2 separate regions of the Homo sapiens genome follow, and region 1 is linked to region 2. Evidence: fine-mapped expression QTL. A gene starts in region 2. The other region holds a variant in brackets. All regions are shown on one strand. Distances are between the middles of the regions.

Region 1 (15,124 bases), 300 kb before region 2:
CTTGAGCAGGGGAGGAACATGACACAAATGACCCTCTGTTCTCCTGAATGAGTTACTTCTCCAGTGTGCTAAGGAAAGTGGGGAACACCGTGGGAGTCACCGCCTCCCAGTATGAATCCAGTGCAACTGACAAGGACCTGGCCTAAGCACTGGCTTGTGGAAAGAAGTTTCTTCCTAAACCAGCGGCTACAAGGCACCTGTAAGCTCTGCCTGAGCTTGCCAGGACTGTCCCAGACCCTTCTCCTGCAGCTCTGGGGGGGCTCACAAGAGCTCTCAGGCACTGTCATCATCGTGCCCCAGTTCCCCAAGCAACACTTCATCATAGTGGCTGTACCCATGAGGCAGAGCCCACTCTATGGTTTGGGGCCCATTGCCGAGTCTGTGGCAAGGCTTCTTGGGGGCTCATTCTGGGTTCTAAGGCAACCTGTAGGTCCCCCAGGGGGCCAGGGAATGTCAGATACTGAGGGGTTTCCAGGGCAGAAGTTCCCTGCGAGGACCAGTTTCCCATGGCTCACTAACACTGTGTACCTGGGATACCACCTCTCCACCCCACCCTCCACCATACACGCTCCCTCTTCTTTCTACTTTCCAAACCCTGACCTCCTTCAAGCTCATACTCAACGGTACCGTTTTCTTTTTTTTTCTTTTTTTTTTTGAGAACAGAGTCTTGCCCTGTCGCCAGGCTGCAGTGCAGTGGCGCAATCTCGGCTCAGTGCAACCTCCTCCTCCCTGGTTCAAGTGATTCTTCTGCCTCAGTCTCCTGAGTAGCTGGGACTACAGGTGTGCGCCACCATGCCCAGCTAATTTTTATATTTTTAGAAGAGACGGGGTTTCACCATATTGGCCAGGATGGTCTCGATCTCTTGACCTCATGATCTTCCGCCTCGGCCTCCCAAGGTACCTTTATTTTTTTAAGACTTAACCAAGCTACTCAGGCCAACAATGTATTTTTCTCTCTTCCTTCTTTCTTTTCTCTTCTTTTCTTTTTTTTTTTTTTTTTGAGACAAAGTCTTGCTCTGTTGCCCAGGTTAGAGTGCAGTGGCACAATTTTGATTCATTGCAACCTCTGCTTCCTGAATTCAAGTGATTCTCCTGCCTCAGCCTCCGGAGTAGCTGGGATTATAGGCCCACACCACCACACCTGGCTAATTTTTGTATTTTTAGTAGAGACAGGGTTTCGCCATGTTGGCCAGGCTGGTCTTGAACTCCTGACCTCAGGTAATCCACCTGTCTCAGTTTCCCAAAGTGCTGGGATTACAGGCATGAGCCACCTCATCCAGCCCTTTTTTTTTTTTTTTTTTTATAAGAAACAGGGTCCTGTTCTGTCACCCAGGCTGGTGTGCAGTGATGTGATTATAGCTCACTGCAGCCTTGAACGCCTGTGCTCAAGTGATCCTCCAGCCTTAGCCTCCCGGGAAGCTGGGACTTCCAGGCATGTGCCACCACACCCAGCTAATTTTTTTGTATTTTTTGTAGAGATGGGGTCTCCCTGTGTTGCCCAGGCTGGTCTTGAACTCAGGCTCAAGTGACCCTCCCCCAACAGCCTCCCAAAGTACTGAGATAACAGTTGTGAGCCACCGCACCTGGCCTTTTTTTTCTCTTTTTTTGAATTCCTATTTCTCTTAATACGTTTGACACTGAGTATTACCTTCCCTCCCTACCCAGACTAGAATCCCAAGCACAAGGACCCTGCCTTCTCCTTTCCTGTAGGCCCACAGTCGCGAAGGCAGGTCATAAGTCCATAAGTCATCAGGACTGGCTGCTTCCCAGCACTCTCGCCTCTAAAGTGTACCAGGTAGAGGCCAGGCATGGTGGCTCATGCCTGTAATCCCAGCACTTTGAGAGGCCGAGGCAGGAGGATCTCTTGAGACCAGGAGTTCAAGACCAGCCTGGGCAACATGGTAAGATCCCATCACTATTAAAAAATATATATATATATTTATATATATTAAAATTTTATATATTATTTATATAAAATATATATATACTTTTTTTTTTGAGATGGGAGTTTCACTCCATTTGTCTCCCAAGCTGGAGTGCAGTGGTGTGAGCTTGGCTCACTGCAACCTCTGCCTCTCAGGTTCAAGTGATTCTCCTACCTCAGCTTCCCCAGTAGCTGGGATTACAGGTGCCCGCCACCATGTCCAGCTAATTTTTGTATTTTGTATTTTTTTTTTTAGTAGAGACAGGGTTTTACCATGTTGGCTAGGCTGGTCTTGAACTGCGCCTGTTCTATAAAATTTTTTTAGAAAGAGTCCCAGGTACGCCAGGTGCGGTGGCTCATACCTGTAATCTCAGCACTTTGGGAGGCTGAGATGGGCGGATTACTTGAGGTTCGGAGTTCAAGACCAGCCTGGCCAAAATGGCAAAACCTTGTCTCTACCAAAAATACAAAAAGTAGCCAGACATGGTGGTGCGTGCCTGTAGTCCCAGCCACTTGGGAGGCTGAGGCAGGAGAATCACTTGAACTGGGGAGGCGGAGGCTGCAGTGAGCTGAGATGGTGCCACTGCACTCCAGCCTGGGTGACAGAGTGAGACTCTGTCTCAAAAAAAAAAAAAAAGAAAAAAAAAAGTCCCAGGTATGTGATTCACAGTCTCTTGAGAAAATCTACTCCCTTCCCCTCCCGGCCCCAGGCTCTCTGAAGGACATCATTTGGTTCTGAACTGTTCCCGCCCCGCCACAGGCCAATGCCTGGGGGCCCCTCCCAGCACCAAGGGCGGGCAGTGCGGGGCTGGGTGTCTCACCTCTGGAGGGGGCTCTGGGTTAGGGAACATCATCTGAGAACAGGCTGTTCTCTGGACTTCCCTGGAGTCACACAGGACCTAAGACCAAGCCGTGTCTCCCCTGAAAGGGTGGCATTGTCCACCACTTCCTGACCCAGCAGGCCCTCGTGTCCCCGGCTGGTTCCGGAGAGCCAATTACCAGCAGGCACCGCAGGAAGGGCGCCTTTCTCCCAGCCTCTCTTCCTCCCTCCCCAGCACTCCCCATCCTCCGCTCGCCTGGGACAGCCCAGCCAGGCAGTGGCCAATGGGAAACCCTCTGGCCTTGCTTGTGTGGGGAGCTGGGCCTGGGCCTGGCCTGTGGGCCCAGTTGGACACTGTCAGGTCACATACACACAGCTCTTGGCAGAAGCCCAGCCCTCGGGCTGCCAAGGCCAGGCTGGCTCACAAAGGTCCCACGGCAGGAGCAGGCACGGGGATGTGCCCCGGGTGGGGGTGGCAGGTCCCCAGGCAAGGGGCCAGAGAAGGAAAACCTGAGAACAGGCAGCACAGATGGGAAAGGAGAAGGGCAAAACAAAGGCAGAGGAGGCCGGGCACGGTGGCTCCACCTGTAATCCCAGCACTTTGGGAGGCGGAGGTGGGCGGATCACCCAAAGTCAGGAGCTCCAGACCAGCCTGGCCGACATGGTGAAATCCCATCTCTACTAAAAATACAAAATTAGCCAGGGGTGGTGGCGCGTACCTGTAGTCCCAGCTACTCAGGAGGCTGAGGCAGGAGAATCACTTGAACCCACGAGGTGGAGGTTGCAGTGAGCCGAATTCGCGCCACTGCACTCCAGCCTGGGTGACGAGAGAAACTCTGTCTCACAAAAAAAATAAAATAAAGGCTGGGCGCGGTGGCTCATGCCCGTAATCCCTGAACTTTGGGAGGCCGAGGCGGGTGGATCACCTGAGGTCAGGAGTTCAAGACCAGCCTGACCAACATGGTGAAACCCTATCTCTACTAAAAATACAAAAATTAGCCAGGCCTGGTGGTGGGCGCCTGTAATTCCAGCTACTCAGGAGGCTGAGGCAGGAGAATCGCTTGAACCCAGGAGATGGAGGTTGCAGTGAGCTGAGATCGTGCCATTGCACTCCAGCCTGGGCAACAAGAGTGAAACTCCATCTCAAATAATAATAATAATAATTTTTTTAAAAAGAGGCTGTAATCCCAGTACTTTGAGAGGCCGAGGCAGGCAGATCACTTGAGGCCAGGAGTTCAAGACAAGCCTGGCCAACATGGTGAAACTCCGTCTCTACTAAAAATACAAAAATTAGCTGGGCATGGTGGCAGGTGCCTGTAATCCCAGCTACTCAGGAGACTGAGGTGGGAGGATGGCTTGAGCCCAGAAGTTCAAGGTTGCAGTGAGCTATGATCATACCACTGCACCACTCCAACTTGGGTCACACACACACACACACACACATGCACACAAAAGAAAGAAAAGAAAACTAGAAAGAAAGAAAAGAAAATTGGCCATGGCAGGTTGCAGTACAGGTGGCAATAGCTCAGGTTAACAGCTGGGACCTACCACCTGAGTGAGGATGACAGGGAGAGTACAGAACCAAATGGAGATCAGGTGAGCCTGGGAGAGTAGAGGGACAGGTGAGGCATGAAAGCCAAACAGAGCGTCCCCACCGTGGGGAGCCTTCTGTGCTCCGTGAGACTGCTCTGGTCCTAGCTACAACACTTGGAATTTGCTGCCCAACATCAGGGTCTTTTTAATTCTTCTCTTGATCAAAAATAATAATAATCATCATAGAGCCATTGTCACCAGATTAGTGGTAGTAGCAGGAGCCACTGACCCTCACTTGGGCCTCTTCCTCCTCCCAGGCACTGCACTGGTAATTTACTTCTCATCCGCCTTTGGTCCCTAGAGGGCAAGAAATCTGGGCCCCTATTTTCCAAGACAAGCTACTTGCAAGTAGTACAGCCAGCAAGAAGTGGAGCCAGAATTCAAACCCAGGTCCATCTGAGAGCGCCTCCTCTCCCACACCGTGCTGCCTTCTGTAACTGCCAGGGTCCAACACAAACCTGTTGCCAACCAACGTCCTCCACCCTACTGTCTGCCTCACCTTCTGTTGCCCAGGCTGGAGTACAGTGGTGCAAACGTGGCTCACTACAGCCTCAACCTCCTGGATTCGAGCAATCTCCCATCTCAGCCTCCCAGGCAGCTGAGACGACAGGTGCATGCCACCACACCTGGCTAATTTTTAAATTCTTTTGTAGAGATGGGGTTTGCTATGTTGCCTAGGCAGGGTCTCCCTCTGTTGCCCAGGCTGGAGTACAATGGTGCAAACATGGCTCACTACAACCTTAACCTCCTGGGTTCAAGCAATCCTCCCATCTCAGCCTCCCAGATAGCTGAGACGACAGGTGTATGCCACCACACCTGGCTAATTTTTAAATTCCTTTGTAGAAATGGGGTTCACTGTGTTGCCTAGGCAGGTCTCAAACTTCTGGCCTCAAGTGATCCTCCTGCCTCAGCCTCCTGAGTAGCTGGGATTATAGGCACATGCCACCACACCCAGCTAATTTTTGTAGAGACGGGGTCTTACTATGTTGCTCAGGCTGGTCTGAAACTCCTGGGCTCAAGCGCTTTGGCTGTCCCAGCCTCCCAAAGTGCTGGGACTACAGGCATGAGCCATGCGCTGGGCCCTAAAATGGTGAATTTTATGGTATGTATATTTTACCACCACACACACACATAGACACACACACACACACACAGTTACAAGGTAGATAAGCCTCCAAAACATGCTACATGAAAGAAACCAGACATGAAATGGGACACAATGTGTGATTCTATTTGTATGAAGTGCTCAGAATGGGCAGATCCATAGAGACAGAGAGCTGACTGGTGGCCACTGGGGCCTGGTAGGAGAGGGGTGGGGAGTGATTGCTTAATGGGAACAGGGTTTCCTTTACGGATAGTGAAAATGTTCTGAAATTAAACAGTCATGTCGGTTGCACGACATAGCGAATGTGCCAGATGTTGCTTAATTATACACTTGAATTTGTTACAATAGCGAATTTCATGTTATATGTATTTTGTCACAGGAAAAAAAAAGATAAAAAACACTGAGAAACTGATTTTTTTTTCTTTTTCTGAGACGGAGTCTCACTCTGTCACCCAGGCTGGAGTGCAGTGGCGCGATCTCGGCGCATTGCAACCTCTGCCTCCCGGGTTCAAGTGATTCTCCTGCCTCAGCCTCCTGATAGCTGGGATTACAGGCACCCACCACCCCGCCTGGCTAATTTTTGTATTTTTAGTGGAGACGGGGTTTCACCATGTTGGCCTGTCTTGTCTCGAACTCCTGACCTCAAGTGATCCACCTGCCTCGGCCTCCCAAAGTGCTGGGATTACAGGCATGAGCCACCACGCTGGCCTGAGAAACTGATTTTACTGAATACCTACTACACGCAGGGCAAGGCTGCCACACAGATAGTAAGGCTCTTTGCCATACAACCACAAGAGGGCCTTTCACAGACAGTTGTGGACAGCCATGCACCTGCACATGGCTGCCAGGATCCAGGGCACCACACCAGGGGCTGTGAGAGAGCACACAGATGATAGGAAGTGGACCCTGTGGCCAGGTGTGGCAGCTCATGCCTGGAATCCCAGCACTTTGAGAGGCCGAGGCAGGAGGATCACTTGAGGCCTGGAGTTCAAGACCAGCCTGGGCAACATGGTAAGACCCCATCTCTACAAAAAATGAAAATTTAGCTGGGGATGGTGGTATATCTGTAGTGGTGGCTACTTGGGAGGCTGAGGCAGGAGGATTGCTTGAGCCCAGGAGTTGGAGGCTGCAGTGAGCTATGACTGTGCCACTGCACTCTATCATGAATGACAGATGGAGACCCTGACTCCCCACCCTTAAAAAAGGTGGATCTTGTCCTCAAAGGGACAAAGACTGTACTACTCCTTCCTGTCCTTTCCTTCCTTCTCCTCTGACTGTGCTTATGCCTGTAATCCCAACACTTTAGGAGATTGAGGTGGAGGATCGATTGAGCCCAGGAGGTGGAGGTTGCAGTTGAGCCGAGATTGTGCCACTACACTCCAGCCTGGGTGACACAGCGAGACTCTGTCTCAAAAAACAAAAACAAAAACAAACAAAAAATGGCCAGGCGCGGTGGCTCATGCCTGTAGTCCCAGCACTTTGGGAGGCTGAGGCAGGCGGATCACCTGAGGTCAGGAATTTGAGACCAGCATGGTCAATATGATGAAACCTCGTCTCTACTAAAAATACAAAAATTAGCTGGGTGTGATGGTGCGCACCTGTAGTCCCAGCTACTCAGCAGGCTGAGGCAGGAGAATCGCTTGAACCTGGGATGTGGAGGTTGCAGTGAGCTGAGATCACACCACTGCACTCCAGCCTGGGCGACAGAGTAAGACTCTGTCTCAAAAAAAAAAAAAAAAAAAAAGAAAAGATAAGAAAAGAAAAGAAAACAAAAACAAAAACAAAGTATCTCGTAACATCGTCCTAGACAAGAATGAGAAAGGACAGGCTGCTAGGGGTCCAAACCACCGCCCACCAGCCAAACCTGGCCTCAGCCTGCTTGTGCATGGCCTGTGAGCTAGGACTGGTTTTTGTGTTCTTGTTTAGGGACAGAGTCTTGCTCTGTTGCCCAGGCTGCAGTGTAGTGGTACGATCATAGCTCACTACAGCCTTGAACTCCTGGGTTCATGCAATCGTCCCACCTCCACCTCCCAAGTAGGTGGGCCTACAGGTGCGCACCACCACGCCAGGCTAATTAAAAAATTTTTTTTTGTAGAGACCGGGTCTCACTTTGTTGCCCAGGCTGGTCTTGAGCTCCTGGCTTCTAGCGATCCTCCCACCTTAGCCTCCCAAAGTGCTGGAATTACCGGCGCTAGCCACCATGCCTGGCTTTTTAAGGGTGGGGAGGAGGAGGAGGAGGAGGAGGAGGAGGAAGAGGAGGAGGACGAGGAGGAGGAAGAAATAGTAGCAGCAGGAAGCCACAAAGCCAAAAACATTTACCATCTGGCCCTTTGCAGAAAATGTTTGCTGGCCCCTGGACTAGGCAGGGCAGCCTATGAGGGTGGATGTCCACACATACAGAGGCTGATTACTGGCCATCACTTTGGGGTAAGGCATGCTGGTGCCTGAGCCTGTGTCCTCCTCCTCATGTTTACCAGGGAGGTATATGTCAGGCACAGTGATTGATCTAACTGATGCTGGGAACAACAGTAACTACATTTAGATGACTATTTTTTTTTGTTTGGACAAGGTCTTGCTCTGTTGCCCAGGTTGGAGTGCAGTGGTGCAATCATGGCTCATTGCAGCCTCGACCTCCTGGGCTCAAGCAATCCTCCCACCTCAGCCTCCCAAAATAGTTGGGAGCACAGGTGCATGCCACCACACCCAGCTAATTTTTTTTTTTTTTTTTTTTGAGATGGAGTTTTGCTCTGTCACCTGGCTGGAGTGCAATGGCGTGATCTCAGCTCACTGCAACCTCCGCCTCCCCGGCTCAAGCGATTCCCTTGTCTCAGCCTGCCAAGTCGCTGCGATTACAGGCACCCACCATCACTCCCGGCTAATTTGTTTTGTAGTTTTTAGTAGAGACGGGGTTTCACCATGTTGACCAGGCTGGTCTTGAACTCCTGACCTCAGGTGATCCTCCTGCCTCGGCTTCCCAAAGTGCTGGGATTACAAGCGTGAGCCACCGCACCCAGCCACTAATTTTTTATTATTTGTAGAGGTGAGGATCTCCCTGTGTTGCCCAGGCTGGTCTCGAACTCCTGGCCTCAAGCCATCCTCCTGCAGCGGCCTCCCAAAGTGCTGGGATTACAGGCGTGACCCACCGCGCCCAGCCTCAGCCTGGTTCCTTGCGTGAGTCTTGGTTTCTTGGTCTCCTTTTCCCCGTATGCCAGCTGCCTCCCTCCATAAGAGAACATCTGTGATGACCTTCGGGGTGCCCACTTAGGCTTTCAAAGGGGCCTGGAATGTAGGGCACAGGGTAAGAGACTCGGACACCAGGCCTTGGGGAAAAGGAGAAGCGGGCCCATATGCCCTCCTCTCACCCACAGGGAGCTGTGGCTTCGAAAGGGGCTCCTCCCTTGTAAGGCTGCTGCTCCTGTCGTCATGGAGGAAACCTTGGTTCTGCTTCCCTAGCACCCCAAACTGCAAAGTCACGCTGGCAGGTATTGCACCCAGAGGGCTCATTCCCCATTCATCATAGTCACTGGTTGGGCAAGTCACCCTCCCTAGAAAGCGCAGCCTTGGGTAAATCCACCAGACATATCCTGATCTTTCACTATTCACAGAGCCAGACTGGAGTGGCCTTTCGTAATGGCCCTGGCCAGAGCT[C/T]CCGGGGGAAGCCTTCCGGATAGGCAGCTTGTCAGCAAGAGTGGGAAACCCTGGGCTGCGCCCTCCCCACAAACCACCAGCATTGCCCAACTTCCTCTCTTCATGCCCTCTACCACCCTCTCGTTGCCCCAGCTTTCTTTCTTTCATTTTTTTTCTTGAGACACAGTTTCACTGTCACCCAGGCTGGAGTGCAGTAGTGTGATCTCGGCTCACTGCTACCTACCTCCACCTCCTGGGTTCAAGCGATTCTCACACCTTAGCCTCCCGAGTGGCTGGGATTACAGGCACGTGCCACCAACTCTGGCTAATTTTATATTTTTAGTAGAAACAGGGTTTCACCATGTTGGTCAAGCTGGTCTCAAACTCCTGACCTCAAGTGTTTCATCTGCCTCAGCCTCCCAAAGTGCTGGGATTACAGGTGTGAGCTACCACACGTGGCTAATTTTTGTATTTTCAGTAGAGATGGGGGTTTCACCATGTTGGCCAGGCTGGTCTTGAACTCCTGACCCCAGGTGACCTGCCCTCCTCAGTCTCCCAAAGTGCCGGGATTACAGGCATGAGCCACCGCACCCAGCTGTTTCCCCAGCTTTCTAACAGTGAGGTTAGTTTTGTCTCTTCTCTTTTATTAATATACTGCTACTTATCTCCAATGATCTGAAGACTCAAGGTGGGTGATGCCTGACTTACAGGAGATCCCCCAGCACGGGAACCATCCCTTATCCAGCTCTGGGTCTCTTGCAGTGTCCAATTTCTAGAAGTGACCTTTCTGTCAAGTGAATGAGCCAAGCCCCAGCCACATCCCAGCACTAGAAAACCTGATGCCTCTCCCTTGAGCACATCCTTTTTTTTTTCTTCCAAGTTTTTTTGTAGAGATGGGGTTTCACTATGCTGCCCAGGCTGGTCTCAACCTCCTGGGCTCCAGTGAGCCTCCCACCTTGGCCTCCCACCCAACATCCTTGACATCCCACCTTTTGTTCTATTTCTGCAGGAATCGCTGTGTGTAGAAAGAAAGCCTTTGGTCAGTGGTTCCCAGACTTGGCTAGGCCGGGATATCATCTGAGAATCCTGTACCCCGAGTTTGTACACACACCCCTAGATTCCTTTGCTCCACCCCCAAATTGGACTCATTTGGGCTCGGAAGGGCCCATGGCACTGTTAATTCAGGTGATGTTACAGAAGAACATTGTATGTCAGAGTCTAAGAAAAAATTCAGCTAAAAGTAAAAACAGTGGCCGGGCACAGTGGCTCATGCCTGTAATCCCAGCACTTTGGGAAGCCCAGGTGGGCGGATCACTTGAGGTCAAGAGTTTGAGACCAGCCTGGCCAACATGGTGAAACCCCATCTCTACTAAAAATACAAAAATTAGCCAGGTGTGGTGGCGTGTGCCTGCTGTAATCCCAGCTACTCGGGAGTCTGAGGCAGGAGGATTGCTTAAACCCAGAAGGCAGAGGTTGCAGTGAGCCGAGATCACTCCAGCCTGGGCGACAGAGCAAGACTTTGTCTCAAAAAAAAAAAAAAAAGAGAAGAAAAACAGTAACAAAAAGGAAGAATGAGAGCAAAGAATAAAGATGGTGGAAATGTGAAGAATGAAGTCAGTTTCTCAGCTCAGACAAGTATACCTTGATGTAAGTAAATTTTTTTCTGGAAAATGTGAATTGCCACTAAGGCCAAATTAGGAGATTATTATTCATTTCACAGAAGACATTGGCATTCGATACCCTTAAATAGCAATCTCCGTTAGTACATTTAAGAGAGGATTCAGTTTACAGAAGTGTGATTTATACAAAACCACATCTGTTACATAAAGCTCAGAAAAATAGCTCTCCTCCCATGTCATCTTGCTAACTATAGAACTGGCCCAGTATAGATGGTCACCTATTTTCTTCTAAAAGATACCACCCCTGCTCTCTGTCATCTATTTCTGTTTCACCGTGATCACGGGTAACAGATTCTTAGGGGCCACCCAGATCTCTCTCTGGTCTTCCCTAAACTCAGGGAACAACTGCTCTGAATTGTTTTCATATTCACTCATTCATTCGACATATATTTCTGGAAGGCCTATCATATGCCTGGCACTACTCTAGAAATACAGTGAGGGTGCGGTGGCTCATGCCTGTAATCCCAGCGCTTTGGGAGGCCAAGGTGGGTGGATTGTTTGAGCCCAGGAGTTCAAGACCAGCTGGGGGCAACATGGTGAAACCCTGTCTCTACAAAAATACAAGAAATTATCCAGGCGTGGTGGTGCATGCTTATAGTTCCAGCTACTTGGGAGGCTGAGGTGGGAGGATCACCTGAGCTCAGGAGGCAGAAGTTGCAGTGAGCCAATATTGCGCCACTGTACACCAGCCTGGGCAACAGAGCAAGACCATGTCTTTAAAAAAAAAAAAAAAAAAGGCCAGGCACAATGGCTCATGCCTGTAATCCCATCACTTTGGGAGGCCAAGGTGGGTGGGTCACTTGAGGTCAGAAGTTCGAGACCAGCCTGGCCAACATGGTGAAACCAGTCTCTACTGAAAATACAAAAATTAGCCAGGGGTGGTGGTGCATGCCTGTAGTCCCAGCTACTCGGGAAGCTGAGGAACAAGAATTGCTTGAGCCTGGGAGGCAGAGGTTGCAGCGAGCTGAGATAGCACCATTGCACTCCAGCCTGGGTGAAAGAGTGAGGCTCTGTCTCAAAAACAAACAAACAAACAAATAAATAAACAAAACCAAAATAAAACAGCAAGGAACAGAGATGACGATCTCTGTCCTCACGGAGCTTATATTTTAGCAGGGGAGACAAGCAGTAAACAAATCGGATGGCGAGAGGTGCTATGGAAGAAAGATAAGGGCAAGGATAGGGCTGGAGTGTTCTAGGCAGCATTATAACCTCCCAAAGGGTCACTGAGAAAGGCTGTACTGAGGTGACAGAGGGATACAGACTTTAAAGTGACGAGAGGCTGGCGTGGTGGCTCACACCTAAAATCTCAGCACTTTGGGAGGCCGAGGAGGCAGGACTGCTTGAGACCAGGAGCTTGAGAACAGTCAGGGTGACATAGCAAGATCCTGTCTCTACAAAAAAATTTAAAATGAAAAAATTAGCCTGGCTTGGTGGCAGAGGTGGGAGGATGGCTTGAGCCCAGGAGTTTGAGGCTGCAGTGAGCTACGATAGGGCCACTGCACTCTAGCCTGGGCAGCAGAGTGAGACCCTGTCTCAAAAAATAAATAACATGAAGAGGAAGTGAGCCTGGTACACACCTGGGGGAAGAGTTCTAGGCACACGAGCAGAAGCCCAGCTGGCAGGCGCGAGGAAGTATGGCTAGAGCCGGAAGTCAGGGGCAGGAGGGGCCAAATCCCTAGAGGCCTCGTGGCTCATGGTGAGGACTGACCTTTGTTCCACATAAGACTGGGGCCACTGGAAGTGGTTTTGTTTTTTGCGGTTTTTGGTAAAGACGGGGTCTTGCCATGTTGCCCAGGTTGGTCTTGAACTCCTGGCCCCAAGCGATCCTCCTGCCTTGGCCTCCTAAATTGCTGAGATTAACAGGTGAGCCAGTGTGCCTGGCCTCCCTGGAAGGTTTTGAGCAAAGCGGTAAAACGATCTGATTCAATAGGATCCCTCTGGCTGCTGTGCTGAGAACAGACTGCAGGGACCAGTGTGGCTGCAGGGACCACAGTGAAGACTCTGCTGCCTTCAATCAGGACAGAATTGATGGTGGAGGCAGAGGAGGTGTCGAGACGTGGTCGGTCTCTGAATTTATTTTGAAGCTAGAGCTGATGGGATTATCTGATGTTCTGGATCTGGGGTGTGAGGAAGGAAGGAGTCAAGGAGAACATCGTGATGATTTGCCTGAGCAACTAGAGGGACTGAGCTGCCATTAACAAGCTGGGGGGACCCATGGGAGAGTTGGTTTGGGGCTAGGTTAGACATGACACACCCACCAGGTATCCCAGTGGAGCTGTGGGTGAGCAGTGGGCTGTGCCGCATCTGGAGTTCAGAAAAGGTCTAAGCTAGGCCAGGTGTGGTGGCTCACACCTGTAATCCCAGCACTTTGGGAGGCCGAGGTGGGCAGACCTCTTGAGGCCAGTTCGAGACCAGCCTGGCCAACATGATGAAACCCTGTCTCTACTAAAAATACAAAAATTAGCCAGATGTGGTGGTGCACGCCACCCAGCTGACTCGGGAGGCTAAGGCAGAAGAATTGCTTGAACTCAGGAGGTGAAGGCTGCAGTGAGCTGAGATCATGCCACTGCACTCTAGCCTGGGTGATAGAGTGAGACTCTGTCTCAAAAAAAAAAAGAACAGGTCTGAGCTACATTTATAAATTTGGACGGAATGTAAGAGTGGATAAGAGCACCAAGGAGTGAGTGCAGATGAGATGTCTGGGGACAGCCTGAGGACACCCCGACGTTCAGGAGAGACAGGAGGCCAGGTACGGGCAGTGGCTCATGCCTGTAATCCCAGCACTTTGGGAGTCCAAGGAAGGAGGATTGCTTGAGCCCAGGAGTTCGAGACCAGCCTGGGCAACACAGTGAAACCCCGTCTCTACCAAAAATACAAACATTGCAAGTCTTAAAACCTGGTCTCTAAATAAATAAATAAGGATAGGAGGGAATCAGTGATGGAGATAGAAAAGAAACAGCCTGTGAGGTTGGGGGAAGCCAGGAGACTGTGGCACCCTGGAAGCCATATGAAGAAATGCATTTTGACCGGGCATGGTGGCTGGTGCCTGTAATCCCAATGCTTTGGGAGGCTGAGGCAAGAGGACACTTTGAGCCCAGGAGTTGGAGGCTGTAGTGAGCTATGACTGCGTTACTGCACTCCAGCCTGGGCAACAGAGCAAGATTGTCAAATAAATAATTATCTATCTATCTATCTATCTATCTATCTATCTATCTATCTATCTATATATTTTTTAAAGGAAATTGGCTGGGTGTGGTGGCTCACGCCTGTAATCCTAGCACTTTGGGAAGCTAAGGCGGGCAGATCACCTGAGGTCAGGAGTTTGAGACCAGCCTGACCAACATGGTGAAAGCCTGTCTCTAATAAAAATAAAAAATTTAGCCAGGCGTGGTGGTGCGTGCCTGTAATCCCAGCTACTCGGGAGGCTGAGGCAGGAGAATCGCTGGAACCTGGGAGACGGAAGTTGCAATGAGCTGAGATTGTGCCTCTGCACTCCAGCCTGGGCAACAGAGCGGGACTCCATCTCAAAAAAAAAAAGCAAAAAAAAAAAAAAAAAAAGGCTCTCCCCCTCTGATGGTAGGTCGAGGAGAGAAAGGGGAGGCTGGGAGCTGGAGGCAATGAGTGCTCTACAGGGTTTCTGCTGTGAAGAGGGACAGAGAGAGAGGGCAGCCGCTGGGAGGAGGTGGGCTCAAGGTTTTCTTGTTTCCAGTGGGAGACATAATAATGCATTTGCATGCGCATGAGGAGAGGACGGGAGAGTGGCAGGGATGGGAATGGGGCCTGGTGCCCAGCAGGAGGGCAGGCTGGGCCAGATCCCACAGTACAGACACAGACGGAGGCAGACATGTGGGTGAGGGCAGTGCCAGTTTTCACAGATCGTCTCTCTTCACAGTGAAACAGGAAGCGAGGTCAGGGCTGAGAGCTCAGGATTTGAGGAATGCACAGGATGCCTGGAGCTGCACTCAAGGACCAGGCAAGTGGCACTTGGAGAAAGGAACTAAGCCAGCCTCCGCCTCCTCTTCTCCAGCCCAGTTCTCCCCAGAGCCTCTCCCTTGTCCTCAAACCAACTCTTCTCCTCCTCCTCATTGCCTTTCTGGCTTGTAAAGTGTTTGAGGCTGGGCACAGTGGCTCACGCTTGTAATCCCAGCACTTTGGGAGGCCGAGGCGGGAGGACTGCTTCAGCCTAGGAGTTTCAGACCAGCCTGGGGAGTAGTGAGACCCTATGTCTACAAAACATCAGAAAATTAGGGTGTGGTGGCTCATGCCTATAGTCATAGCTACATAGGAGGCTGAGGCAGGAGGATCGCTTGAGGGCAGGAGGATCACTCGAGCTCTGAAGGTCAACGCTGCAGTGAGCTATGATCGTGCCACTG
Region 2 (15,124 bases):
CCTCCTCTAAGGATCAACCACACCCCTCTAGCATCTATGGTGGAAGCCAATCCAGCTTCTCTCAGTGCCAAGCTAATCTGGGATCCACTTTTTCTTTTTTTCTTTTCTTTTTTTTTTTTTTTTCAGAGACAGAGTTTGGCTCTGTTGTGTAACACGGTTAAACTTTGGCCATGTTAGGAGGACCTAGGGGTGTGGGGCAGCAAGGAGACCGGAAGAAGGTCTGGGGAAGTTATTTGGACAATGAAGAGAGCCAGGTGGGTCAACAATTCTCTGTGCTTTGCACTTGACAGCAACCGCCACCCCCCCTCCTGTTTCTCTGCTCTCATTTTATCTTTTATTTTTATTTTTTTAAAACATAAAGATGGGGTTGGCCGAGAGCTCTGTTGCCCAGGCTGGAGTGCAGTGGCACAATCACAGTTCACTGTAGCCTCAGCCTCCAGGCTCAAGCGATCCTCCCACCTCAGCCTCCTGAGTAGCTGGGACTACAGGCACGCGCCACCACACCTGGCTAATTTTTTATTTTTTGTAGAGGCGGGGCCTTGCTATGATGCCCAGTTTGGTTTCAAACTTCTGGCTTCAAACAATCCCCGCCTCAGTCTCCCAAAGTGCTAGGATTACACGTGTGAGCCACCATGCCCGGCTCCACTGCTTTTATTTTATTTTATTTATTTTATGTTTGAGATGGAGTCTCACTCTGTTGCCCAGGCTGGAGTGCAGTGGCGCGATCTCAGCTGACTGCAACCTCCGCCTCCTGGGGTGAAGCGATTCTCCTGCCTCAGCCTCCCAAGTAGCTGGGATTATAGGCGCCTGCCACCACGCCTGGCTAATTTTTGTATTTGTTTAGTAGAGACAGGGTTTTGCCATGTTGGCCAAGCTGGTCTCGAACTCCTGACCTCAGGTGATATGCCCACCTCTGCCTCCCAAAGTGCTGGGATTACAGGCATGAACCACCATGCCGAGCCTGGCTAATTTTTTTTTTTTTTGAGACAGAGTCTCGCTCTGTAGCCCAGGCTGGAGTGCAGTGGCAATCTTGGCTCACTGCAAGCTCTGCCTCCCGGGTTCATGCCATTCTCTTGCCTCAGCCTCCCGAGTAGCTGGGACTACAAGTGCCTGACACCAAGCCCGGCTAATTTTTTTGTATTTTTAGTAGAGACAGGGTTTCACTGTGTTAGCCAGGATGGTCTCAATCTCCTGACCTCAAGTGATCCTCCCGCCTCGGCCTCCCAAAGTGCTGGGATTACAGGCATGAGCCACCGTGCCTGGCCCAGCCTGGCTAATTTTTAAAAAAATTTTTTGTAGAGATAGGGTCTTGCTGTGTTGCCCAGGCTGGTCTTGAACTCCTGGCCTCAAGCCATCCTCCCACCTCGGTCTCCCAAAGTGTTGGGAGCCACCTTACCTGGCCAGAAAACATATTTAGAATATAGATGTTATCAAGCTCAATAATGAAAATGTAGAGGTTCAGACGGCTAAAGTTTTAGAGGGACAGAGCAAAGGGAAAGGGAAGCTTCATCGTACAATATTAAGAGATACTGTTCATGGATCAAAAAACAAAGGCCCCAGGCTACTACTTAAATTATAAAAGTGATTAACAGAGGAATTAAATTAGGTGTATAAATAATATTGGAAGGGTGTGGGCAGCAGAGGTGAGCTGTGGTTTAAATGGCCTAACTCACATCAGTGGGACTCCAGAGGTAACATCTAAAATATCAGGCAGAGGGCTGGACATGGTGGCTCATGCCTGTAATCCCAGTGCTATGGGAGGCTGAGGCAGGAGGATTGCTTGAGCCCAGGAGTTTGAGACCAGCCTGGGCATCATAGTGAGAACCTGTCTCTTTATTTATTTATTTATTTATTTATTTGAGATGGATTCTCTCTATATATCCCAGGCTGGAGTGCAGTGGCGTGATCTCGGCTCACTGCAACCTCCGCCTCCTGGGTTCAAGGGATTCTCCTGCCTCAGCCTCCCAAGTAGCTGGGATTACAGGCACCCACCACCACACCCAGCTAATTTTTATATTTTTAGTAGAGACCGAGTTTCACCATGTTGGCCAGGCTGGTCTTGAACTGCTGACCTCAAGTGATCCGCCCGCCTTGGCCTCCCAAAGTGTTGGGATTACAGGCGTCAGCCACCGCACCTGGCCTGTCTCTATATTTAAAAAAGAAAAGAAAAGAAAAGAAAAGAAGAACAAGGAGGAGGAGGAGAAAGAAGAAAGAGAAGAAGAGGAAGAGGAAGGAAGAAGAAGAGGAGGAAGAGGAAGAAGAGGAAGAGGGAGAGGAGGGAGAGGTGGGAGAGGAAAGAGAGGAAGGAGAGGAAGGAAAAGAGGAAGGAGAGGAGAAGAGGAAGGAGGAGAAGAAGGAGAAAAGAAAAGAAGAAGAAAGAAGAAGAAAAGAAGAAGGAAGAGGAGGAAGAGGAAGAGAAGAAGAAGGAGGAGGAAGAAGAAGAAGAGAGAAGAAGAAAGAAGAAGAAGAAAAGAAAGTCACAGGTCAAAATCAGCCAGAAAAACATGTATGTACCAGCATGGCTGTAATGACCAGAAGAAAATGCTAAAAAAGAGAAGAATTTATCCTTTCAGCCAGATGCATTGGCTCATGCCTATAATCCCAGCGCTTTGGGAGGTCGAGGCAGGTGGATCACTTGAGGTCAGGAGTTCGAGACCAGCCTGGCCAAAGTGGTGAAACCCCATCTCTACTAAAAATATAAAAAATTAGCTGGGCGTGGTGGAGCGCACCTGCAGTCCCAGCTACTCTGGAGGCTGAGGCAGGAGAATCGCTTGAACCCAGAAGGAGGAGGTTGCAGTGAGTCAAGATCACACCACTGCACTCAAGCCTAGGCGACAGAACAATACTCCACCTTAAAAAAAAAGAAAATCAAGTCTATAGTCACTATTCTTTAGATTTGGGGAGCAAGTAAAAGTTTGTTCTTTGGCCAGCAGCAAGATTATCTGGGTATTTAAAAAGTATTTATGAGCTGGGTGTAGAGGCTGACACCTGGAATCCCAGCGCTTTGAGAGGCCGAGGTGGGAGGATCACTTGAGCCCAGGAGTTCAAGACCAGCCACATAGCGAGACCCTCTCTCAACAACAAATAAAAAATAAATTAGCCAGGTGTGGTGGTGCTCACCTGTAGTTCCAGCTACTCGGAGGCTGAGGTGGGAGGATTGCCTGAGCCCAGGAGGCAGAGGTTGTAGTGAGCCATGATCATGCCACTGTACTCCATCCTGGGCGACAGAGCAAAACCCAGTCTCTAATTTAAAACAAAAAAAGGTATTTATGTATTTGACTTAGAATAAGTAATACATTCATAAGGTACAAAATTTGAATGATACAGAGTAGTATATAGTGAAATATATTCCTTTGCCCCTGGTCTCCCTCCTCCCAGTTCTCCAGAGACAACCAACCTTACCTCCCTCCCTTTTTTTTTTTTTTGTTTTTGTTTTTGTTTCAGGAGGTATTTCATGCACATACAGGCAAATATGTATACCTAGTATCTATGTTCTTCCCTCATTTCCCACCACAATTGTTTGAGAACATACAAACGGTAACATTCTATACCTACTGTTCTGTACCTTGCATATTTATCAATTTGTCTCAGAGATTTTTCTGTTTAAGCAATGAGCTTCCTTCCTTGTTTGTTTGTTTGTTTGAGACAAGAGTCTCACTCTGTCACCCCGGCTGGAGTGCAGTGGTGCACCCTTGGCTCACTGCAAACTCCGCCTCCCAGGTTCAAGCGATTCTCCTGCCTCAGCCTCCCGACTAGCTGGGATTACAGGCGCCCACCACGCCCAGCTAATGTTTTGTATTTTTAAGAGACGAGGTTTCACCATGTTGGCCAGGCTGGTCTCAAACTCCTGACCTCAAGTAATCTGCCTGCCTCGGCCTCTCAAAGTGTTGGGATTACAGGTGTGAGCCACCGTGCCCTGCCGGCCCCTTGTTTGTTTGTTTTTGTTTTTTTGAGACGGAGTCTCAGTCTGTTACCCAGGCTGGAGTGCAGTGGCGCAATCTCAGCTCACTGCAACCTCTGCCTCCCGGGTTCAAGCCATTCTCCTGTCTCAGCCACCCCTGGGACTACAGGCATGTGCCACCATGCTCAGCTAATTTTTGTATTTTTAGTAGAGACGGGGTTTCGTCATGTTGGCCAGGCTGATCTCGAACTCCTGGGCTCTAGCGATCCTCCCACCTCAGCCTCCCAAAGTGCTGGGATGACAGGCGTGAGCCACTGTACCCAGCCCAGATTATTTCTCAATGTTTTCATTTATGGCTTCTGGAGTTTATGTCATAATTTCATAATTTAGAAATGCCTCTTGGGGATTATTAACACCAATTCTCCCATGGACTTTTGGGGGCTTTTTTTTTCCTTCTCCCTTAAAAAATCATTTAAATATTTTATCTATCTGGAATTTATATTAGTGTAATATGTGAGATGTGGATGCAACCTACTTTTTTTCCCCCCAGCTGGCCAGCGAGAGTGTTTTTTCGGGGTGGGGGTGGGGAGGGAAGGAGAGGAAGGTAGGACAATGAGGAGGACAGTAACTGAAGAAGAGAAGCTTTCAGCTCGGTGTGGTGGCTCACGCCTGTAATCCCAGCACTTTGGGAGTCTGAGGAGGATGGATCACCTGAGGTCAGGAGTTCGAGACCAGCTTGGCCAACATGGCAAAACCCCGTCTCTACTAAAAATACAAAAATTAGCCAGGTGTGGTGGTGCACACCTGTGATCCCAGCTACTCAGGAGGCTGAGGCAGGAGAATCGCTTGAACCCAGGAGGTGGAGGTTGCAGTGAGCCTAGATCTCACCACTACACTTCAGCCTGGGTGTCAGAGTGAGACCCTGTCTCAAAAAAAAAAAAAAAAAAAAAAAAAAAAAAAAGAGGCTTCCTTGCCAGTGGGTGTAGCAGAAACGAGAAGTGACATAAACAGTCAGGAAGCCGGCTAGGTGCGGTGGCTCACACCTGTAATCCCAGCACTTTGGGAGGCCAAGGCAGATGGATCACCTGAGGTCAGGAGTTCGAGAGCAGCCTGGCCAATATGGTGAAACCCCATCTCTACTAGAAATACAAAAATTAGCCGGGTGTGGTGGCACAAGTCTGTAATCCCAGCTACTCAGGCAGCTGAGGCAGGAGAATCGCTTGAACTCAGGAGGCAGAGGTTGCAGTGAGCTGAGATGGTGCCCCTGCACTGCAGCCTGGGTGACACAGTGAGACTCCATCCCCCCCAAAAAAGTCAGGAAGCTGCTGAGATCATCCAGGTGAACGGTGAACCCACGTGGCCCCAACTGGAACAGGGACAGCAGAAAAGATGACAAGAGGAGGTTCTGGAGATAGAATCCATAGGACCCAGTTATTGGTTCAATGGGAAAAGGCCAAAGAGGTAAAATGCCTGTTTCCTGATGTTTCCTTAGTGATGCTATATTATTAGCAGACAGAGAAGACTCAGTGTTTTAGGAGTTCTGGTTTCAAAAAAAGCAGGGGGCATGGAGTCAAAGTCCAAATTTGAAGCCTCACTGGGACATCCTGGGGAGATGTCCAACAGGGTGTTGAAAAGATGGCACAGAGTATCAGATATCTGGGTGAATTTCTCCACAGCTCTCTCTCTGGGTGAGTGTGGAGTTCAGTCCCTTCTTTGGACAGGTATTGTGCCCCACCCTGAGGGCTACTGCATTCATCCAACCTGTTGGAGGGACTGGTTCCTGGACATAGGAAACCTGGCACCTGGGCCATGGTAATAATCTCTTTATATAGGATTTTGCTATTTTCACAATATTTTAAAGATGAAGAGTGGATGGGAATGGTGGCTCACATCTGTAATTCCTGCACTTTGGGAGGCCGAGGCAAGGGATCCCTTGAGGCCAGGAGTTCAAGACCAGGTTGGGCAACATAGCGAGACTCTGTCTCTACAAAAAATTTAAAAATTAGGCTAGGTGCAGTGCTCACACCTGTAATCTCAGCACTTTGGGAGGCCAAGGTGGGAGGACTGCTTGAGGTCTGGAGTTTGAGACCAGCCTGGGAAACATGGCAAAACACCATCTCTACAAAAAAATTTCAATCAACTTTCTTTAAAATGAAAAATAAAAATACAAAAATTAGCCAGTTGTGGTGGCGCATGCCTGTAATTCCAGCTACTAGGGAGGCTGAGGCAGGAGGATCACCTGAGCCCAGGAGGTCGAGGCTGCATCCCAGCCTCAGCGACAAAGGGAGACCCTGTTTCAAAAAATAAGTAACATATATGTTATTATATAATATATATTATTTATATAATATATAAATATAACAAATATAACATTTATATAATATATAAATGTTATATTTATGTATTATTTTATAAATTAACTTTTTTTTTTTTGTGAGACGGAGTGTCACTCTGTCGGCCACACTGGAGTGCAGTGGTGTGAACTGGGCTCACTGCAACCTCTGCCTCCGGGGTTCAAGTGGGTCTCCTGCCTCAGTCTCCCCAGTAGGTGGGATTACAGGCACCCGCCACCATGCCCAGCTAATTTTTGTATTTTTAGTAGAGACGGGGTTTTGCCATGTTGGTCAGGCTGGTCTCGAACTCCTGACCTCAGGTGATCCGCCCACCTCAGCCTACCAAAGTTCTGGGATTACAGGCGTGAGCCACCGTGCCTGGGCTATTTTTAAAAGATGGAGAAGGGGCTCTGAGAGAAGTGAGTTGCACAGTGTTGCAAAAGGAATTCACAGCACAGCTAGTAATAATAGTAGTAGTAGTAATAATAACAATGGCGATGAGAACACTTAGTAATGCCGTGCTCTAAATCCTTTAGGAACAAAGGTTATACCACTTAATCTTCATGACCCTGTAAAGTAGAAACCATAGCAGGAGGCAGAGGTGGGCTTCACTCCCCAACCAAGGCTGCCAGACTTTTCAAACCCCAGAAGCTCTCTGTATCCCCCCACTCCTCTTCCATCCAGGGCTTGCCTCCTGCTTGGTCACTTCCCACCCCCAACAGGCCGGCCTTCAAAAGCGAGCTCTAGGCAGCGTGTGGGACCTCACGCCTGTAATCGCAGCGCTTTGAGAGGCCGAGGAGGGAGGATCACTTGAGACCAGTTCGAGACCAACCTGGGCATCATAGCGAGACCGCATCTCTGCAAATAAAATAAAATAAAATTAGCTAGGTGTGGTGGCGCGCCTGTAGTCCCAGCTACTGGGAGGCTGAAGTGGGAGAATCGCCTGAGCACAGGAGTTGAAGGCTGCAGTGAGCTGTGACTGCACCACTGCAATCCAGCCTGGGCGACAGAACGAGACCCTGTCTCTAAAAACAAACGCGCGCCCTCCGCCGTCAGGCTGGATGGAGGGAACCCAGGGAGACGACTTGGGCCTGAAGCCTCGCCAATTTCAGGTGAGGAAACAGGGCCGTGGAGGAGACAATGTGGCGATCACAAGCAAGCGGCGGCCCGAAGGAGGAGGCTAGACCGGCGGGCGCACAGCCACAGTTCTGCAGTGATCCCCGGGAAGGTGGGCAGCCGGCCCGGTGACCTGCAGGGTCCGAGCTGTAGAAGCCGCAGCCGCCGTCTCCAGGCGACTCCGCCACCCCCGGAACCACGCACTTTCATTTCTCTGCCGGGCGACCCAGCCGAGCCGCGAGGGGGCGTGGCCGGGCCGGGCCGTACCAAGAGCGCAAATTTGCAGGGGGAAGCGCGGGGCTCCGGGAATGCACGCGCGGCTCGAGTGGGCGGGGCGGCGGCCCAATGGCCACGCCCCCACCCCCGCGGCCGGCGAAGGCGGTGGTAGCGCCTCAGTGGTGTGGGCCTGAGCCCTGCCCAGGTGCCCGCAGAGAGCAGCCGGGCTGCCAGCGGTGAGTGCTATCTTTCGCGGCGACGGCGGGGTGGGTGAGGTCGGGCCCCAAGACTCGGGGTTTGCCGGGCGCCTCAGTTCACCGCGGCCGCCTGGCTCTCTGCGTCGGGGTGGGCCCTCGGGCCTGGGCACTGCGCGTCTGGCCCGACGCTCGGGCGGAAGGCATGGCTCCCACCCCGGCCCTCCTCCGCGTCGCCCTTCCCCTAGAGCTGATCTCCCGCGGCGGCCTGAGGGTCGACTTTTCCACAGCTTGGGCCGAGAGAGCCCGGCAGGCCCTCGGCTGAGGGTTAGGGCTCGGTATCTCAGGGCTCGGGGTCCAGTCCCCGCGCCGCCGCCCCCCACGGGCTAAGCCACTTTAACTCTCCGAGCCTCAGTTTCCCCATCTGTACGATGAATGGGCCTCGGGAGGCAGCGAATTCTGGGGGTACCTAACGTGAGAGGCGCTCGATGCATGCTCATGGGACCCGAATCTAACCCTGCAGCATCAGGTGGGCTGAGTCGATGGATCACGGGAGCCCCCCAGCCCGGCCTGCATCCCTGAGGGCAGTGCCCCTCGCAGTCAGGTGTCTCGGCGGCCCCCACAACACAGGTACCCGGATCTCCTGGGGGAGCCGGGACACCCTTAGATCGGGGGAGCAATTGGGTAAGAGTTCAAGGTCTCTTGGGCGCCAGGGGGAGGAGAGTAGAGGTTTCAGTGAGCTTGATTGACTTCGACTTTCTGCGTATTGTTTTTCAAAACGAGTTACCCTTGTGTAAACTGGTGACCACTAATAAGGAGTTTGGGGCTGTTTCAATGAAAGTGGCTGTCTCCTCTCTTAAACCCTTAAAGCTGCAGCCTTGCCTTGCCTTGCCTCTGAGCTTGGCCAAGCTGGAGAATGATGCCAGCACAAAAGGAGACAGGACTGGACTGGGTGGCCCTGGTTTGATTCTTGGCAAGCAAGATACCTCCTGGAGCCTCCGTTTTCTGATCAGTGGGTCTGGTAGTAAGACAGCCACCCTGCTCTCCCCACAGGGTTGAGATTCTGAGGATCAAGACAGGGTCCCAGAGAGTGGCATCGAGAACTTTAATCCTCCTTGTAAGCAGAACGTTTATGGAACCCTCTGGGGGATCCAGTATCCCCACCGTTGTTCACTGCTGTAATTCCTTGGGTCTTGCTTTATGGAGAAGGCATTGATTCATTAACCATTTGCAAGTTCTACCTACGGAAATCCCTTTTGAGTGGTTATGGGGTTGGCTTGGTCAGGAGAACAGCTCCAAAGGCCCAGTTAGTAAACCAGGGAACCCAGAAAGGTCCACTTCCTTTTTTTTGGGAGGAGGGCTGTTTTAGGAGTTCTTATTTTCCTTTTAAGAGAGTGGTTTTTGAGCTACTTATGACCTTCATGCCATCTAATGTTGGAAACTTTCGCTGAGCAGATAGCTTATTATAAAAAGTATTTGTACAACATCCGCATTTCAGAGAATGGGATGCTAGCTGCCAGTTGCGTGGTGGTGTGGAAACTTAGGAGTGATCTTAATTTTCCAAAATTCTTCAGGTCTAGCACTTGAAGAAATAATAGGTAGATTTGAAATGAAACAACCCAGGGATATTCCTGAAAACAGCAGCATTGACCGCAGCCAATGTAAATCAGGTGTGGATCGTCCTGGGTAGTAGGAGTTTATAAATGCCACAGAGGATGTTTGCTGCCAGACATACCTGAATTTTAGGACCTGCTGTTGGTTAACTCTGGGTTGATCCACCCTTAACCCCTTGAAAATCAGAATCTGTGTTAGGTAAGTCTGTGTATGATTAGGAGACAGGCCAATTGAAATCAAAACTGCTTGGCAAATCCAGAACATTTACTCGTGAAGTCCATGGAACATTTCAAGTTAAAAATAATTTAGCTTTTAAGTAACTTTTTTTTTTTTGTGAGACAGGTCTCACTCTGTCGTGCAGGCTGGAGTGCAGTGGCGCAATCATAGCTCACTGCAGCCTCAACCTCCAGGATTCAAGCAATCCTCCCTCCTCAGCCTCCCAAGTAGTTGGGAGTACAGGCACGCACCACCACACCCAGCTAATTTTTTAAATGTTTTTTAGAGATTTGGTTTGCCATGTTGCCCAGGCTGGTCTCGAATTCTGGGGTTCAAGTGGTCCTCCTGCTTTGACCTCCTAAAGTGCTGAGATTACAGGTGTGAGCCACCGTTCCTGGCTTTCTTATTTCTTCTTCTTTTTTTTTTTTTTTTTTCTGATGGAAGCTCTTGAAGTTATAGGACCTTTCATGGTTCCAGAGAGGCTGGCCGCCCCTACAAGAGCTTCGATGTCCTTGTGCTTTAGGGAGGAGCCAGAGAAACAGAGGTCAAGCTCTGGCACTAGCACCGTGTGTGGCCTCAATTGAGCATGTTGGGATTTAACTTTCTGTTATATGTCAGACTCACTTAAAAATTAAAGTTAGAAAAAGGTGAAATGGAGAAATGACAATTTTCTTTTCTTTTCTTTTCTTTTTTTGAGATGGAGTCTCGCTCTGTCGCCCAGGCTGGAGCGCAGTGGGCTCAGTGCAGCCTCCACCTCCCCCAGGTTCAAGCAATTTTCCTTGCTTGAATTCTGCCTCAGCCTCCTGAGTAGCTGGAATTTCGAGTACCCACCACCTGGCCAAAGATTCTGTGCTCATTAGCACACAGCCTCCCAGGTGGCTACAGCCTTAAAAGACTTTCAAATGCCAATTCTAGGCTGGGAACAGTGGCTCACGCCTGTAATTCCGGCACTTTGGGAGACCAAGGTGGGTGAATTGCTTGAGTCCAGGAGTTTGAGACCAGCCTGGGCAACACGGCGAATCCCTGTCTCTATAAAAAAAATACAAATACAAAAATTGACTGGGCATGGTGGCTCACGCCTGTAATCCCAGCACTTTGGGAGGCCGAGGCAGGCAGATCACTTGAGGTCAGGAGTTCGAGACCAGCCTGGCCAACGTGGTGAAACCCCGTCTCTACTAAAAATACAAAAATTAGCCGGTGTGGTGGTGTGCACCTGTAATCCCAACTACTCAGGAGGCTGAGGCAGAAGAATCACTTGAACCTGGGAAGCGGAGGTTGCAGTGAGCCGAGATCGTGCTGCTGCACTCCAGCCTGGGTGACAGAGTGAGACTCTGTCTCAGAAAAAAAAACCCAAAAAACAACAACTTGTTTTGCTGTGCAGTTTTGTCATCTGGCATTGGGCAGAAATTTGGACCCGCCGGGCAGGTGGGAGAAGCATCTGAGTCAGAGGTCACTTACCTGCTTGCATAGGCCGCTGACCTATACCAAGCCTTAGTTTCTTCATCACTAAAGTCAGAGAAAGAACCCACTCCACCTGCCTCTGGGACAGCTCAGAACATGTTAACCCTTTCAGCAGTGGGTCCTTCTTCATCTTCTTGGCGCTGTTTGGATCCCTGTAGCGTGACACATAAAAAAGCACACATCCGGCCTTAGGATATGTGTAGGCTCTGGTTTGGGCACTTGAGAACTCTCACAGGGAGGGAAGCAAGCATACAATTCAACAAGAATGGCACGGTGTGTTGCATTCATTCTCAAGATGATGGGGTGAGGCTTTTATTAGTGCTGAGCCTGCTGTTTGTTTCCACAGCAGGGCTCCAGGGGAGAGGTGATGTTTGAGTTGGGTCTTGGAGGATTGCTAGGAGTTCTCTGAGCCCACCCAGGCACACCAGCTCTGGGGGGCATGTAGGGTGTAGATTGCATGAGGCTGAGGTCGCGTGGTGGCACTTGTCTGAAATGGTCCTAGGAACCATGGGAAGAGATGGGGAGGTGTTTTAAAAGGTCAGGGCTATGTGACTAGCTCAGATCAGTGTTGTGTGTTTTTTTTTTTTTTAGACAGAGTCTCACTCTGTCACCCAGGCTGGAGTGCAGTGGTGTGATCTTGGCTCACTGCAACCTCTGTCTCCTGGGTTCAAGCAATTCTTGTGCCTCAGCCTCCCGAGTAGCTAGGATTACAGGCACCGGCCACCATGTCTGGCTCAGGACAGTGTTTTCTTGTACTGAATATTCTCTTACTGCCTAATATCCTCTCTGGGTGAATGAACAACCATTTGGGAAATTTTTACTGTGTCTAAATTTGTAATCATACTGTTTTAGAGCTCTACATCTTAAAAGTTTTTCCTCCCCAAGCGAGATGTTTACATCAGTTGTGTTCTTGTTGGGATTAGTGTGCACACGCCTGTCTGCATCTGTGCGTGCGTGTGTGTGTGTGTGTGTGTGTGTGTATGCATATAAGAGGGAGAGAAGATGGAGGAATTCCATGGGGGCAGACCATGGTTCTTTGCAGATTGGTGGCTCCAGTTGGTTGGGTTCACTGGAGCCACGTTCATCAGTTTGTTTCTTTCTTTCCTTTTCTCTCTCTGTATGTTTATTTATTTATTTATTATTTGTAGAAGTGGGGTCTGGCTATGTTGCCCAGGCTAGTTTCAAACTCCTGGCCTCAAGTGAGCCTCCTATCTCAGCCTCCCAAAACGCTGGGATTACAGGCATGAGCCACCGCGCCCAGCCCAGTAACTGTTACTCCTGACGCTGGTCGGTGTGGCAACTCAGTTGATGCTTGGACGTGTTGTGAACAAAGCCCCGGGGAACCTGATCCTTCTGGTGGCTTGTGCAGCAAACTGTTGATGTGGGAAGCTTATTTATTTCACTTGTTAAAGAGGTGACTTGGATAGGGGGATATCTAAGAATTGTCCTTTCATTGGAGTGCTGGAGGGTGTGGCATTCGGATCTCCTTTGTGCAGCATCTGTACCTAGCTGAGAGAATTGTACACATAATTTCCCGAAATGCGTCAGTTTCAAGGCTAACTTAGAATATGTTGGTGGCCAGACTGTGGTGCTGTCAGCTGTGGACTGTTCTCCAAGAGTTGAATTTCTTTTTTTTTTTTTTTTTTTTTTTTTTTGAGACAGAGTCTGACTCTCTCGCCTAGGCTGGAGTGCAGTGGTGTGATCTTGGCTCACTGCAACCTCTGCCTTCCAGGTTCAAGCAATTCTTCTGCCTCAGCCTCCCAAGTAGCTGGGATTACAGGCGCGTGCCATCACGCCCGGCTAATTTTTTTTTGTATTTTTAGTAGAGATGAGGTTTCACTGTGTTGGCCAGGCTGGTTTCAAACTCCTGACCTCAAGTGATCCACCCGCCTCAGCCTCCCAAAGTGCTAGGATTACCAGGCGTGAGCCACCATGTCCAGCTTATAAGAATTGAATTCTTTAGGAGACATTTGGTAGGAGAATAGAAGGGGGAAAGTTGCCTTTTGTCTACTTGGATGTAGTAATGAGGAGGAAGATGGGGCATTGTGGGGCGTGTCCTCTAACTTGGAACAGATGTAATTTATTTCTAGGTGAAAGTTAAGAACAGTGCTTACTCATTCTATTTATCTGCCCTCCTTTTATCTTCGGCACTTTTTCCTACAGCCCTGTTTCTGAGCTCACGTCACATCACCTCTGCGGTGGTGATGCCGGTGTTCTTAGAGCACTGTGTCCTAGTGATACTTTGATCTTCGTGGGCATGCATCATCAGTGCATTGGGTAAGCCGGGCCTGTACAAAGGTTTGCAGGTTTGGTTAGGAACACGTGAACTACGGTCACCTTTCTGAACTTTCTGAACTCATATGTAGTGACCATAGGTCACCTGGGTTGAGTTTTCAACACTGCAAACAGGGATGGCAGTTCTTGAATACACAGGAGAGTGCATTAGCCAGTGGTGCCCGGCATCATTCAGAGTGCAGTTTGGCATCAGGAATGTTCCGTCAGGTATTTGTGGTCTTGTGGAGAAAAGCCACTGTTGGTTTTGGTGAAGGGCTTCAGACCCTTTGACTGCTCATGAAACCACACAGTCTTAACATGGACACGTTGGACGCGTTCCTTACGTAACGTGATTTGCAAACTCAGGAGTCATTCAGCGTCACAGCAGTGATCAAAAGCTCCCAGCCCATCTACCCGAAACCTCCACAACAAGAGCTCTATCTGTCAGTGGCCTCACCGACTTCCTGGGCCCTGAAGCTCCAAGGACAAAAGACTCCTGTCCCTTTTCCCTTCCTCTCCATTCTGGGTCTCCCACCACCACCAAGTCCTGTAAGTTTTTAGTCTTTTTTTTTTTTTTTTTTTGAGACAGATTCTTGCTCTGTTGTTCAGAGTGCAGTGACACAATCTCAGCTCACTGCAACCTCTGCCTCCCAGGTTCAAGTGATTCTCCTGCCTCAGCTTCCCGAGTAGCTGGGATTATAGGTGCGCGGCACCGCGCCCAGCTAATTTTTGTATTTTTAGTAGAGACAGGGTTTCACTGTGTTGGCCAGGCTGGTCTCGAACTCCTGACCTCAGGCGATCTGCCTGCCTCGGCCTCCCAAAGTGCTGGGATTACAGCAGGCGTGAGCCACCACGCCCGGCCCTTTAAATCTCTTTCCACTGCTGTGGTCTTACTGTAGCCCCTTGTCACTTCCTGCTGCGCTGACCCGTAATTGACCCATAATTCTCCCTCTCTTCCCCTCCCTACCACGTTCCAAGATCTGTCCATGGTACCATTGCTGGTTGATCTTGGAACCCTGCTTCGGTCACCCCTCCTTTCTCTTCGCCCAGACTGGAGTGCAGTGGCACGATTTGGCTCACTGCAACCTCCACCTGTCAGGTTCAAGTGATTCTCCTGCCTCAGCCTCCCGAGTAGCTGGCACTACAGGCACGTGCCTCCACACCTAGCTAATTTTTGTATTTCTAGTAGAGACAGGGTTTCACCATGTTGGCCAGGCCAGTCTCGAACTCCTGGCCTTAAGTGGTCCACCCAGCTCAGCCTCCCAAAGTGCTGGGATAATAGGCAGGAGCCACTGTGCCCGGTCACTGTCACTGTCTTATTGCATGTTTTCTTCTTCATCTGCTTTCATAAAGGATAAACAGTGACTTAATAAAAGGTGTCTAATTCTCCCCTCCCTAGTGGCAATACGGTTGGACTAGAAGGTGAATTCAGTTGAGAACAGGGAACCTATCATTTCTGCGAGTGTAAGCTGGGGCATAGAACAATGCCAGGCATAAGGTAGGCACTTGGATGAATGGATGAATGAATAAATATGGCTTCTGTCCCCCAAGTTTACTGCTGAGCTTTCTCCTGCATATTGACTGAGCTCAGATGTCAAAATTGGGTCTGATCTGTAGTTTTTTTTTTTTTTTTTTTTGAGACAGAGCCTGTCACTCTGTCGCCCAGGCTGGAGTGCAGTGGCGCAATCTTGGCTCACTGCAACCTCTGCCTCCTGGGTTCAAGCAATTCTCGTGCCTCAACCTCCTGAGTAGCTGGAATTATAGGTGTGTGCCATCATGCCTGGCTAATTTTTTGTAAT

Evidence for each region. PIP is the estimated chance that this variant, and not a neighbour inherited with it, causes the effect.
Region 1: its variant is fine-mapped to the expression of POR in whole blood (TOPMed, PIP above 0.99).

Annotation. Positions count from the first base shown.
Region 1 is chr7:75,608,921-75,624,044 of GRCh38, forward strand. The region is part of intron 1 of HIP1 (huntingtin interacting protein 1); the gene reads right to left. Among named protein-coding and RNA genes, the nearest start is that of HIP1, 120 kb to the right of the region's middle. RefSeq lists enhancers at 2,539-3,112, 8,401-8,902, 14,267-15,124. The variant C/T (reference allele first, on the strand shown) is at 9,091.
Region 2 is chr7:75,907,378-75,922,501 of GRCh38, forward strand. POR (cytochrome p450 oxidoreductase) reads left to right here and starts at 7,778. Exons shown (of 16, transcript NM_001395413.1): 1 at 7,778-7,802. It overlaps MIR4651 (microRNA 4651), which reads left to right and starts at 7,820; the gene lies at 7,820-7,892. LOC124901680 (a long non-coding RNA gene) reads left to right here and starts at 5,164. Exons shown (of 2, transcript XR_007060393.1): 1 at 5,164-5,362; 2 at 6,919-7,117. RefSeq lists an enhancer at 7,186-7,235 and a silencer at 7,496-7,985.